Linked DNA regions of Homo sapiens. The protein of the gene in region 1 interacts with the protein of each later gene in a pairwise test. Each region holds a gene or a part of one and is shown in the gene's direction. Other genes may lie near its edges.

Region 1 (7,000 bases):
GGCTGTGAGTGGCCTGGTTGGGCCGGGGGTGTGCTGGGTGCACTCAGGTTTTCAGTGTGGTGTCCTCCCTTCTGTTGCAGTTAGGTCATGTGTGCTTCCACCAGGCAATTGGCTTTTATTTATTTTTAATTGATGTATTTGTTTATTTTCGGAGAATTGGCCTGTTAGTTTCTGCATTCAAACTCGTGTAGACAAGACCACACTTAATACAGTGCATCTCCTTTGTACAGATAGGGGAATGATTCTTTCTCTGTGCCTCAGGTTCTGACATCCCACAGGTGATCTGACCTTTGTGCCTGAGGCCTGGAACACCCTGATTGGCAGCTGTGAAACCCTGGCTTTGGGAACTGCTTGGAACAGAAAGTTTTTTAGGTTCCATGGTGTAACTTCTTTTCTCCCTCTTCTTTCCTCTCATTCTGTGGTTAAATGTGACAAGAAGTAGAATTTCTTGGGGTGTGTGAACTCTTCCCAAGGAATACTCTCCAGATGGTCCAAATTTTTCGTGTTTCTCTTTAGCTTCTAAAGTGGATTGCGCATAACTTTTCCCTCTTTTTATACTTAAGTAAACAAATAAGCAAAGACAGCAATCCAGAAGCTAACCACAGTTACATATGTAACTACGTAAACATTTTGGAGGATATCGAAAAGATCTGTCACCCTACCCTGATACATTTTTATTTTGATATATTTTGTCCCCACTGTTTCTGTGACTTTTAAAAAAAAACCGTAGTTCTGTTCCTAGTGGTTGTACAGTGCTCTGACTGACGTTCAGATTGTCGGCACATGAAAGAAATGTAGCACAAAATGGAGAAGTCGTTCAACCTTGACCCTGTCAGAGTTCTTATTTGAAAGCCACATTGCTGCTAGTGTTCTTATTGTGTTTTGGATTCTGTTTCTTGCCCTTTTTCTTATTAGCCAAGTAGTAACTTAAGGAAGCAGATAAGAACAATGAATTTTGGACTAAAGGAAGTAAGAACAATGAACCAGAAATCAGATAGGAATGTGGTGATAATTGTGACATGGTCACATAGTCATAGTGGGAGCTCATGTGAGTAAAAATAGCTTGATACATTTGTTAAGAGGCTTGTATCCTCTCTCTCTCTCTCAAAAAAAAAAAAAGACTACAATCTAAGTCTTTCTGATTTCAAAGCTCCTGCTTATTACCACTTCACAGCACACCTAGAAAGCATAAGGTGGGAGCAGGTTAAAATGCATACTTGTCTTTGGTTATCCCCTCTACTTTCCTGTCCTTCTCTGCCTACCTGTATCTGCATCCTTGGTCACTGTGGAAAATTATCTTCTAGGGTCCTGTGGTGACAGATAATGGGAATTTTATCTTGGACTGGAAGTTTGACCGGGTACACAAATGGAGTGAAGTGAATACAGCTATCAAAATGATCCCAGGTAACATGAGTGGTGTTCACCAGTCATATACACACCCATGGCCTTCATAACTGGCCCCTACATCTGGCCACAGAAGGCACAATGGACATGGGCTTTGTAAGGCTTGGTTGGAAAGAAGAATTCCCTTTATACCATGTTTGGGTTTTTAACTTCACCTCCTTTGCCGTATTCCCTTCCCCCAACAATTGTTGCTTACCTAGCAGCTTTGTTGCTTGTGCATTTCACAGCCTGTTTGAGTTAAGATAGTCCTGAAGCTGATGGAAGTTCAGAGGGGACTTGCCTTGAAATAAGGCCATCGTCTCTGGGTAGAACCTTTCCTTCCAGGAGCTGGACTACAGCCTTTTTTTGTGGGTTCTCTTCTTAAGTAGCGGGGAAAATGACTCAGTTAATCCACATTCATTGGATGCATGCCAAAGGCAAGATGTTGTGCTGTGTGTTACAGGGGATACTTCGATCTGGAGGACTTGTAATCTGTCCTCAAGGAGAATTGATGTAAACCTGGGGAAATCTGTGTGTGTGTGTAGAAGCCATGCCTACAAATAAGATAGAATGTGCTCAATTCTACTAGAGGAATACCAAGAGTCTAGAGTGCACAAAAAGTTTCTTTTTGGGAGAATGTGAGGATGTTCTATGGTGTAGAGGTGGTTTTTCATCCATGCCTTGGCATAACATAAGTTAAACACGGTGCTAAACGTCTAAAAATATTTCCTTTGATTCCCACTTTGATGAGGTAGTTACAGAGGAGGGCACTGGCTGAGAAAGGTTAAGCCATTTGCCCAAAGACAGCACCAAGATGGGCACCCTAAGTTGTCTGCCACTAGACCCTGAATGTTTAATGCTTACTTGCTGAAGCACCAGGCGAGGAGAGGCTGTGTGAAATGAACATTTAGAGCCTTGGGGAGCTTCTAATGCAGCTGTGCCAGGGAATGATGGAATAAGAGCCAGGATGGCCCTGCGTGAAGGATGGGTGGGCAGTGTAGAGATGAGTTATGAGGCTGGAGTCCTGGTTGAGGCTGGAGTCCTGGTCCAGGCTAGAGGAGGTATCAAGGGCTCGTACAGGGGGATTAAAAGGAGGAGGCAGTCTTGAGAGGTATCAGCTTCTTAGGATATTGCGAGACTAAGAGGCTAACGGAATATTCCCTATCATGGAGTATTCTTGGGCCAGAACTGGCTGACAGGACCTTTCAGGCCAGTTTAATGGAGCAGACTATTCTGGATAAGGATCCTAACCCAGCTGTGCTCTGGCGTGTTACCTTTTAGCAGTTAGTTAACATCTCTGTGCCCGAGTTTCTTCCTATGTAGAAGGGGCTAGTTAATTCTAGTGCCTACCTTATAAGGTTGTTGGGTGGATTAAATGAGTTAAAACCGTGCCCATTGCAGAAGGGAAAGTGTTTGTTGAATGAATAAATCCCTTGAAAGAAAGGTACTATTGTTATTTTTAATTAAATATACTAAGATTCTAAGATACACCTGTGCTAGTTGGGATTTAAAATAGTGTGAATATAAGCTGTGTAATGAAAAGCTAGTTCTTCCAGTTCTACTTTATTTATTAATTTTTTGAGATAGGGTCTCGCTCTGTCACCCAGAGTGGAGTGTAGTGGTGTGATCATGGTTTACTGCAGCATTGACCTCCTGGGCTTAAACAGTTCTCCCATTTCAGCGTCCCCAGTAGATGGGACTGCAGACACACACCACCAGGACCGGCTAAGTTTTGAATTTTTTATAGAAACGGGGTTTCACGATGTTGTCCAGGCTGGTCTTGAACTGGGCTCAAAGTCTCCCTTGGCCTCCCAAAGTGCCAGGATCACAGGTGTGAACCGCTGTGCCTGGCCCCAATTCTACTTTAGTTTGTTATTTTAGTTTAGTTTGTTATTGATAGTCTTTTACCACGTTAAGTCAAAAACATGAGTTGGCTTATACTCATTTTCTTGGTTAGTGTTCCCTCTTTAGTGGAAGAACTAAACAGCCAAGAAGGTAGGAGGAAGAGAAGATTTGCAAATCACTGTTAGTAAAATGGGAGAACTTGCCCTTGGTGATAATGCAAACAAACCCAGGGCCCCAGGAGGAAAGGGCTCACCAATGTGGCTGCCGTATAGGTGGAGTTCTTGCAGTGCCCACTAGGTGTCACTCTTGCTCCTGGTTAGACCTTGGCTGCTTAAGGTTCTGAAATGTCCTTTGTAAGGAAATTTCCCTCATATGTGATTCTTCAAAAAAAAGTATGTAGAAGCTGCGTCCTAAAGACGTTCAGAGTTTTGTTAGGAACTTAAAGTGAGGAAAATGATAAAAGAGGCTAGCTATTAAATCATATAATGTGATATCTACAGGACAATCAGAGTGGTTTGCTGTATCTTTTCTCATTTTTTCTTTTCCTGATTGAGTCCATTAGATTCACGGCTGGACCAGTATCAGGAGAATAGAAGTAGGGCGAGTTTCCCTGTTTATCTCTGTTACCATGTGCATTCGTACACAGTATGTGAGGACGCTTAGAAAACAACTCCCTTTGATGTTTTGTTGTGTTCCACCCAGAGCAGAGTGACTGAATTGAAGGGCCAGGGCTACTGGAGTTCTTTCCCCTAGGTTCACATTTAGCATCCTCTGCTCTTTCCACTATATTTTATCGGGGAGTTGGGGGAGGTCAGTCACACCCAGCATCTCAGTAATTGAAAGAGAAGTTGCTCTAAAGTCTTACCTTAGACTGCTGCCCATTCATCTCTGCTCTTTCTTTAAAGCCTTTTCTGAACCTGATTTAACTGTTTTTTGGATCAGTGGATGCTTTCTCCTTATATTGCAGACATTTTGAAAACGGGTCTTGAGTGGCTACTTTGCTCATCTTTGGAAGGATCCAGTTGCATAGGCACAGTTTGGTGCCAGGGACCTTTATTTGTGTTCAGCAACTCTTTGCTCTGCCTGTTGGCTTTTCGTCACTCGATCACTACTCCGTTTCATTTGTTTATTGGGAGCTGTCTTTGGGAGTTTTTTTTTAATTTTTAAAATTATTTCAATAGTTGTTGGGAAACAGGTGATGTTTGGCTACATGGATAAGTTCTTGAGTGGTGATTTCTGAGATTTTGTTGCACCCATTACCCAAGCAGCGTACACTGTACCCAATGCATAGTCTTTTCTCCCTTGTCCCACTCTCACCCTTTCCCCTGAGTCCCCAGAGTCTGTTGTATCATTCTTACACCTTTGCGTCCTCATAGCTTAGCTCCCAGTTATAAGTGAGAACATACGATGTTTGGGTTTCCATCTCTGAGTTACTTCACTTAGAATTATGGTCTCCAACTCCATCCAGGTTGCTGTGAATGCCATTATTTCATTCCTTTTTATGGCTGAGTAGTATTCCATGGTGTGTGTGTGTATGTGTATATATATCACATTTTCTTTATCCACTCATTGGTTGATAGGCATTTAGGCTGGTTCCATATTGTTGAAATTGCAAGTTGTTTTGCTATCAACATGTGTGTACAAATGTCCTTTTCATATAATGACTTCTTTTCCTCTGGGTAGATACCCAGTAGTGGTTTTGCTGGATCAAATAAATGGTAGTTCTACTTTTGAGTTTTTTAAGGAATCTTCACACTGTTTTCCACAGTGGTTGTACTAGTTTACATTCCCACCAGCAGTGTGAAAGTATTCCCTTTTCACTGCATCCATGCCAACATCTATTATTTTTTTATTCTTGCGGGAGTAAGGTGGTATTGCATTGTGGTTTTGATTTGCATTTCCCTGATCATTAGTGATGTTGAGCATTTTTTCATATGTTTGTTGGCCATTTGTATATCTTCTTTTGAGAATTGTCTATTCATGTCCTTGGCCCACTTTTTGATGGGATTTTTTTTCTTGCTAATTTGAGTTCCTTATATATTCTAGATATTAGTCCTTTTTCAGTTGTATAGATTGTGGAGATTTTCTCCCACTCTGTGGGTTGACTGTTTACTCTGCTGACTGTTCCTTTTGTTGTGCAGAAGCTCTCTATTTTAATTAAGTTCCACCTACTTATCTTTGTTTTTGTTCCATTTGCTTTTGGGTTCTTCGTCATGAAATCTTTGCCTAAGCCAGTGTCTAGAAGGGATTTTTCAGTGTTGTCCTCTAGAGTTTTTATAGTTTCAAGTCTTCAATTTAAGTCTTTGATCCATCTTGATTTGATTTTTTGTATAAGAGATGAGAATCCAGTTTCATTCTTCTATATGTGGCTTGTCAGTTATCCCAGCACCATTTGTTGAATAGGGTGTCCTTTCCCCCTTGATATTTTTGTTTGCTTTGTTGAAGATCAGTTGGCTGTAAGTATTTGGCTTTATTTCTGGCTTCTCTATTCTATTCCATTGGTCTATATGCCTGTTTTTATACCAGTACCATGCTGTTTGGTGACCATGACCTTATAGTGTAGTTTGAAGTCAGGTAATGTACTGCTGCCAGATTTGTTCTTTTTGCTTAGTCTTGCTTTGGCTATGTGGGCTCTTTGCTTTTCCATATGAATTTTAGGATTTTTTTTCTAGTTCTGTGAAGAATGATGGCGGTATTTCGATGGGAATGGCATTGCATTTGTAGAATGCGTTTGGCAGTATATGGTCATTTTCACAATACTGATTCTACCCATCCATGAGCATGGGATGTGTCCCATTTGTGTTGTCTGTGGTTTTTTTCAGCAGTATTTTGTAGTTTTCCTTGTAGAGATCTTTCACCTCCTTGGTTGGGTATACTCCTAAGTATTTTATTTTTTTTGCAGTTGTCATAAAAGGGGTTGAGTTCTTGATTTGATTCTCTACATGGTTGCTGTTGGTGTATAGCAGTGCCACTGATTTGTGCACATTGATTTTTGTATCCTGAAACTTTACGGAATTCATTTATCAGATCTAAGAGCTTTTTGGATGAGTCCTGAGGGTTTTCTAGGTATATGATCATATTATTAGTGAACAGCAACCGTTTGACTTCCTCTTTACTGATTTGGATGCCCTTTGTCTTGTCTGATTGCTCTGGCTAGGGCTTCAATAGTATGTTGGATACTGGGTATGTGAAACGGGGTATCCTTGTCTTGTTCCAGTTCTCAGGGGGAATGCTTTCAACTTTTCCCCTTTCAGTATAATACTGGCTGTAGGTTTGTCATAGGTGGCTTTTATTACCTTTAGGTATGTCCCTTCTATGTTGATTTTGCTGAGGGTTTTAATAATAAAGCAATGCTGGATTTTGATAGATGCTTTTTCTGCATCTATTGAGATGATCGTATGATTTTTGTTTTAGATTGTTTATGTGGTGTGTCACATTTGTTGACTTGCATATGTTAAACCATCCCTGCATCCCTGGTATGAAACGCACTCGATCATGGTGTATTATCTTTTTGATATGCTGTTGGATTTGGCTAGCTAGTATTTTGTTGAGTATTTTTGCATTTATGTTCATCAGGGATATTGGTCTGTAGTTTTCTTTTTTTGTTATGATCTTTCCTGGTTTTGGTATTAGGGTAATACTGGCTTCATAGAATGATTTAGAGAGGATTCCCTTTTTTTCCCATCTTTTGGAATAGTTTCAGTAGGATTGCTACCAATTCTTTGAATGTCTGATAGAATTCAGCTGTGAATCCATTTGGTTCTGGACTTTT
Region 2 (7,955 bases), on another chromosome or scaffold:
ACCTCCAGTTTCAGACCTAACTCACCCTAGTGTATTCCATTACTCACTGACTGACTAAGCTCCAATCTATCTGAACCACATGCCTGCCTTGGGATAGAACTCATCATTATGTCTTTAGTTTTGCTTCACTTTTTCTGGAGCACTGTCAAATATATTTCCTCTTAAAAAAATCCTGCCTGTTATTTGGGGGGCAGTTCCAATACTGGGATCTTCGCCATATAGACTTCTTTGTTCTCTCAGCTATTATCTTTCCTAGTTCAGAACACACACCACTAAATGGCGTTGTACTCTCTTCACATATTCCTCATACTCTATATTCTAGGCAGGGTTAGATACATATCTGTAGTACTTGATTGAGAGTTTTCAGGGCAGAGACTAGATCGGATTTTACTATGAATTCTTCTCCTACTTTCCCATGACACCCAACAGAGTACTCTGTACGTAGAAGATATTCTGTAAATAAAGTTTATTAGGGAAACATTGTGGCAGAACAGAAAGAACACAGGCATTTGAGTCAAAAAAGACATAGATATTGTTTGACCCTGAGGAACTTAAAATATGGGAGTCCCACTGTCTTCATCTGTAAAAAAGGTAATATTATCTGCTTTTCAGGCTGGAGGGAAGGATTAGATATGATGCATGTAAACATTCATAATATGCCTGGATGTAGTAGATGCTCAATAAATATTTTCCTTTTTGTTTTATGTAACAAAACTTATTTCTTCTATTGTCTACCATAAAAAGTATGGCAGTGCATGTGAGATTGATCACTGTGTATAGATGAGGAGAGTTGACTTTCAATAAACAGTATGTGTTTCCTTGAGAAAAAATTACCACCGCCTTTGGAAAAGATGTCTTGGATATGTTATAGCTATACACAGGTAGTTTCCGAACTTGCATCTCTCAACTATTCTTTCTCTGAAATACCCCTCTCAATAATACTGTTGGAGTGTAGGCAGTAGAAAATAGTAGATGAAGGTGGCAGTAGCCAAAAAAAAAAAGAAAAGACTTGTCACTTTCATCTATTAAGTATTAGATTTATTTATTCATTTAGGCAACAAATATTTCAAGACTTTATATGTAGGTTATGCTAGTAGATAGAGTATCTAACATAAAACATTGCACTCTCAGCGAACTTAGTGTTTGGGACAGGAAGATAAAATGCATACATAAATGGCAATGGGAAAAAAGACACATGAGTAAGGTATTAAGATTGGGATTCAGTGCAACTCTGGAGCCAAACTTATGTGGTGGCCACAGAAGAACACTGTGTTTTGAAACCTCACATCGCCAAAGGTATACCATATTCTTTATCTGGCTTTCGATTTTGGATTACTGTAATGGTATGTGAATGTGCTTAGACTAATAGAAAGGAAATTGGGATTAGCCCCAAGCCTGTGTTATGTATTAAAATGCTGATTAAAATAAATAGAAATGAAATTTTTCCCACTCAAGTTTCTGACAACAAATACACCTGTAACTCAAATCAGACACACATTTGAAAAAGCACAGAATTCCCCTGTAGTTTATATTCATTTTTATGTGAGATTAAATAGAAGGTAAGCATAACGCTCAAAATATGGAGACTTGACCATTTTTGAATAAAGGAATTTCACAGTACTGCTGTAAAACAAAGCAGGCAGTTCTTCCATGTTTCTGTTTTGTTAAAATATGTATTTCATCTTTTATCTGTTTGAAATGGTGGCTGCAATTTAGTAAATGCCACCGATTTAGTTTAGATTTTATTGTTACAATGTTACAGTTTTGATAGCACTGGGCATTTTTTCCTGTTAGTTTGTTCTGCTGCTTTCAAGATTGGTATTTAATCAGTGTCCTAGCTCATTCGATGTGTCTTGCTTATAGATCCCTCTGCACTAGAGAGAAGAACCAAGTCTTCTCAAAGCTGACAGTTGTCCAGGGGATTTACAACTGATCATATCCAGTGTGGGGGAAATTTGACCTTTCATACATTCTTTTCCATAACTATTTTGGGGGAAAACAAGATTAGTTTTCATGGAGCCAGTGCATGGCACATAGTAGGTATTCAATGTGTTTTTGAAATAGATTTTAATACAGCAAAATGTTTGCTATGTTATGCCTTGAAATGTGCTTGTTTTGAACAAACTCAGGTGTCATAGTACAAAATTACCAGTGTTATAGTTCAGTGGAATTGCTAATAGGTCATCTCATGTTTAAGAAATTAAAAAATATTTTTAAAGATTTGCTATTGGAAGAAATCATAATAAGGGCATAGAAAGAAAACACCACAGTCTGGTTAGCAATCTATTTTTAAAATTACTATGATTATTTTGGAAGATATAAGTTAAAATTTTTTTACTTAGTGGCATCTTCCTGATCACGTACCTGCCATAGGGTTATAAAATGAAAGGAGTTTTACTATGTAATGTAATGTAGTCATAGTCTTTTATGTTAAGCAAAATTTGATTGTGAAAACTAATATGCAGAGTGTAACATTTTCTTTAATAACCTGGAGTTATTTCCAGGTGATATCGAAGAGTAGTGTGCTGATAGTAAAGAATGTGGGACTCTTCAGGAACAAATGACTTGACAAAATGGTTATACACTTCTTCCTAATACATTTGTGTGTGTGTGAGATTGTTTGTGTTTATTGGGAGGTATTTGCATTAGTTAATTATTTCTTTTCCTAGTTTTTGTCACCTTTATATGTGCTTAGTGAAGCTTGCTATAAATTATTTAGGCCTGAACTGAAGGTTAATGTCATTGTAACCAGCCAAACTTGACGTACCCCGATGCAGCTTTGTGCGGGAGGCACCTATGGCTTGATAGCTGTGTGAAACTGTTGCCTACAGAGATGGGCTCTTGACACTGTCTGCCAGCCTGAGGCTGTCCGCTTTGTGTCTGCTTTAATTGAAAATTAATAGTTAGGGGGTTGCTATGGAAATGATACCATTGCTTGCAGACAGCAAACCCAGCTTTTTGCAAAGAGACACTAGTGGTATTGTTTGTCCTTGTTGACCTCAGAAGTTCAAAAGCCTGGAGGAGGAAAGGAGATGCAAATATTTTACTTAAAAAAATGAATTTACATATTTATAACAATATTTTTGAATGTCAGAGGTATCAATTTTTTTAACTTTTGTTGGTAAAAATGAGTGTAAGCTTTTAAATTTTATGTTAATTGCTACTACACTGCTTTCTAGGTTGATAAGGCACTATTGCTGAAGAGCATTATGTTATCATTTTAGTGAATGTAAACAGATTTGTGTGAAAATGTTATTTGACTGATGTGATAATGGAAACTATCCTTTATTTCCTCTGGAGTACATAAAGTCATTTGTGTCATTGTATACATTATTCACAGTTTCTTTGAAATGTGGAAGCCCTGTAAACTGTGAAGAGTTGGGAGAAAAAATTTTTAAATGAACAAAGCAGACTTAAAAAATATATTCCTGATACTTGAATATTCGCAGTTGTTTAATTCCCTTAAAATATAAGTTACTATTGCTCATATAATTTCATTTGCTTTGTTCACAATCTGATAAAAAAATGTTAAAAATAAATGTTTACAGGTACTTGCCTATTGCATGAGTTTCCTGTGTTTAAATTTTGGTTTAAAAAAAAACCAATATAAACATACTTTTAATGAGTGAATTATTTAACTATAAAATGAAAAAAATTGCTAACAGAATATTAAACGGTTTTGTATCACAGAGCTAAAGAATAAGTGCTTTCAGTTCCTTTCAGGGGAGGTGGAGAAATAGTGCAGCCTCAGGGGTTGAAGGTGAAATGTGAAATTTGCTGTAATTACTTACCCAAAATGTCTGTATTAAAGGCTATTAGAAGCAGTTATTTTAAGTACTTCTTTATACATCTTTCCCTCTTCTGTTTAGTATTTAAATGTGCAACAAAAGTAGTGGCAGATGTTACTCATCTGAAGAAACTAAAACAAGATAAGTCAGTGGCAGGAGTGGTGGCCGGTTAAAGATCTCTTCGAAGTGCTTTGTTCAGTAACTGTTGTTTTGTCTCACATTAAGTTGTAGGTGGGGTGCTGTTAAAGCTTGTCCACTCACGATGGTGTTCAGCTGAGACCTGTGAGTTCAAGTTGTCTTGCCCAGAGTTAAAGGCCATAAAACTAAGACAGTGTCGTTCCTGTCTTGGGTGTAACTCCTAAAAAACTAGTCAGTTCTTGCAATAGGAGGAAAATTATTGCAAATAAACCTTTGATTTACCAGCTTCAGTAAGTTGTTCATTCTGTCTCTGTAGCTGTAGTTTTTACCTTAACAGTTTGAGGCTACCATTTCTCTTCCTTTCATGCTTATGGGGTCCACACAAACCCTGCTAGGCTACCTACAGTATAAAATCTTAAAACTCCATGTGGTGTTGTGAGCTGGTAGCAGATGGACTTTCTTTTGCATCTGCTGTGTACAGACTTGGCTTTGTACTCTTTTCCTGGGGGAGAGAAAGTCTTTCTTCTCTGCTAGTTGATTCCTGTTTTTGTGAAACAGCTAAGAAAACATCTGTGGCAGGCAGAAAAATTGACAAAGGATTGACAAACACCATTAGCTGAAAATTTTCCATTTCATTGCAACTATGCATTGTTTACTTTACTGTAAATATCTTAATACATCATCCTCTGAATATGCTGGCAGAGAAGCTGGAGAACTGTGATTTCAATTAAGGTTAGTAATTGATGGTATCTAGTGTTCAAAGGCTGAAGCTTGATTAACATCTGCTTGGACAAATTGTCATTGTGAAGTGGTTTTGATGTGCATTGAAGATTATTTCTTTCTGGCTTATCTGATGTTGTGGCTGTGAAATGCTTGTCTTGGGTTTGCTTATTTTTGTAAACTACTTCCTTTGGCTGTAAATTGCAGAGCACTGGAGCTTTACCAAAAGTGCAGTGTATAATGGTAAGCTTGTCCTAATAAGGGAAGCAAGAAGTGTATTTATCACAGACATGAAAGCTAACCGAGGACTTGAGAGACTCAAACTGGTGCTTTTGTCTCTCTCTCTCTGTCTTTCTCTCTCTCACACACACACTCACACACTCACACACATGCACACACACACATACACACACACAAAAATGAAGCACTTACTTTAGAAAGATTATGGTAAGCATGCTGGCTCAGTCTTGAACCTTTGTCACCCCTCACGTTGCACACCAAAGACATACCCTAGTGATTAAATGCTGATTTTGTGTACGATTGTCCACGGACGCCAAAACAATCACAGAGCTGCTTGATTTGTTTTAATTACCAGCACAAAATGCCATCAGTCTGGGACGTGATCGGGCAGAGGTGTACTCACAGTAGTGTAAATACTGCTGTAAATAGTTGTCTGATGGTGGCTTTGACAGTGAGCTAGCTTCTGAGTTTTCCCTTCTTTTTATACTGTTTTCTGTGCTGGCTTTTTTGAATCTTCCTAATTTTTCATCTCTTTAACAAACTCCTATGAAGTTGAAACCGGGAAGTTTGCTCTAACATTTCCAGAGAAGGTACGTTACTTTTTGCTAAGAGAATATCTGTAAGAGTTTAGAGAGGGGTGGGATTTTACGATTGCTTTACTGGTAGATTTGGCAATTGCTTTACTTTTTTTTTTTTCTGAGACTGTAGCTCATTGAAATGAACTAGAGCATTGTATCTGTTTGCGAGGGAAAAGCCGGGAGACCAGACACAGGAACTGTTTTTGATCTGTCAGTAGCGTAATGTAGATTTAAGCTATCACTAGTAAAGACAGCAAATAAAGAAGGCCTCTTTTGTATTAAAAAAAAATCTGCAAGATCTTGAGAAGAATAAAGACAGGGTTCCTGCTTTCATGGTTTGATAATAACCATGTCATCTTGCTTTTAGTAAATGCCCCAGTATGTGTCAGGGCGCAAGTTTTTGAAAAGGGAGTTTGACCACACGTTTGGGTGCCTCTCTGTGCCGTGCTGTGTAGAGCAGATGTTTATTTTGTGCTAAAGGGGAAACTCTTTTTGCTAAGCTTGTACAAACATGAAAGGAGTCAGGGCTCAGATGATCTTTGTAGTTTTATATGCATGTTCATGATTTTATTAAAAATTGGTTGGTGGGTCTTTTTCAAATCACTGATTGTGAAGAAATATATATATTTCCAGGAATACACATTGTGAATTGATGAGTAATTTTTAGAAACTGCATTATATTTCTTCAAATAGGTGTGATAGTTTAATACTCGTGTCAGTTAAAAAGGTAGCTTGGCTGGGCTATAAATTACCATTTCTGCACTTTTCATTCTGTCTGCTTCAAAAAAGCGTCTCAGAACCTGGGATCCTATTGGGCCCATCATAGGGCTACAGTAATTGCCTGATGACAACTGAAAATGATAGAATAATTGTCAAGAGAGACATTTTTAATGGGCAAGGTGATTTAAGTATGCATGAACAAGCTATGAGGGAAGATGAGCTTGTTTATGATGCAAGCCAGTATAAACACAGTCGGAGGATGACACAGATAGCTGCACTTTTCCCAGTGACATGAGCAAGTTCTTACTGCAACACCAACAGCTTTTTCCTCTGACCAGTTTGACATTCTTCACCTTCAGGTAATAACGCCTAAATTTCATCCATGTATTTTCACTTTACTGTAGCCTAAGTGACAGGTTTTTGTTTACTAGCCTCCGCGACCAAAAAAAAAAAAAAAAAAAGCACTCTATTTAATGTGTGCTTAGAATAGATCTTGAATCACTTTCACCGTCAATAGTGTGTGTAATACAAAACTTTCATTCTTATTTTCGATTGTTCCTTATCTTTGAACTGTTCTGACTTTAAATCTGATTATCTATAGTTGATTCATAATGCCCTTTTAAAGGCATATTTATTTGTCTTTACAGTCAGCCCTTCTGCTGTACAAGTTTGGAAACAAAGTATACTTGAGAATATGTGGAGAGGTTTAATGATTAGCCTGTTGGTTTTCACGGAAAGCAGAGTCCTATACCTAACAGAGATTACGGTATTGAAGGGTTACAGGTATCTGTTTAGAAATATGGTGCTCTATTAGAAAACAACTTGTTTGACTTTTTTTTTTAAACCCATGTAAAATTTCACAGAATATGCTCACGTTTTATTTTAAAGATCACTAAAATTATATGCATTGAAATACTAATAATCTTTGTAAAAGGTGGATAGATAATTTGTTTACTTTATTATTCATGAAGGCAAGTAAGGCATGGTATTCTGCTATTGTGGGCATATTATTAACATTTCATAGGGATTTGTGCTGGAATGTGGAATGCTGCTTCTTCATAATTTAATACTCCTATGCATAATGAGGTTTGTGATTAGTTGATAGAGAGAATTGGCCCAACTCCATTCTGAAAGCAGATAATTTACATTGTTCTCTAGAGTCTAGAATCTAATAGGTTCTTTAGTGCAATAAAATTAAATGCTACATGTTTTAAATTTCAGCATACAAATCCCCCTGGCAATTTTCTGTTTTTAATTTTTGCCTTTTGTTTCCTCTAAAACAATGAATTTTAAAAATTGTTTCTAGAACATATATTTACCTAGCTCTTTTATTTAGTATGTACAAGTCAATTAGCACTGTTCATTAGCAGAATTGGGTATTTGTTTTAAAGTTTAACCAATCACTTTGAAATGCTAATTATGATGTAATTTAATTGCAAGTCCTGTAATGATGATGCTGATATTATCGACATAAATGATGCAGTTAAGCAGTGGAATCTCATTTGCATATGCTTAAAGCAAGTTGAATTGGGCTGTTTCAATATCACTTTGCTTTAATTTTCCACCTCTGTTCACACCAGCCCTTTGGGTTTTTAAAGCTGTGGTTTCCTATTGATGATCAGTGCTTTCATCTTTATTTTAATGACAAAGGGGCAACAACTGACACTGGAACTGTAAAAATGAAAAGCAAATAATTACTTCTATTAAATATACGAACTATGAAACCTTTTTTGGTAATGATCATTCTTTAGAAACTGACAAATGCATGCAT

The links.
Region 2: the proteins of RPIA (region 1) and FOXP2 interact in a two-hybrid assay, tested with the Homo sapiens proteins (2 studies listed by BioGRID).

What each region holds. Positions count from the first base shown.
Region 1 is NC_000002.12:88,736,673-88,743,672, forward strand, and holds part of RPIA (ribose-5-phosphate isomerase), read left to right. Parts: coding exon 1-4; intron 5-1,304; coding exon 1,305-1,404; intron 1,405-7,000. UniProt on the Homo sapiens protein: Catalyzes the reversible conversion of ribose-5-phosphate to ribulose 5-phosphate and participates in the first step of the non-oxidative branch of the pentose phosphate pathway.
Region 2 is NC_000007.14:114,409,885-114,417,839, forward strand, and holds the start of FOXP2 (forkhead box protein P2), read left to right. Parts: upstream 1-4,930; 5' UTR 4,931-5,476; intron 5,477-7,955. UniProt on the Homo sapiens protein: Transcriptional repressor that may play a role in the specification and differentiation of lung epithelium. May also play a role in developing neural, gastrointestinal and cardiovascular tissues.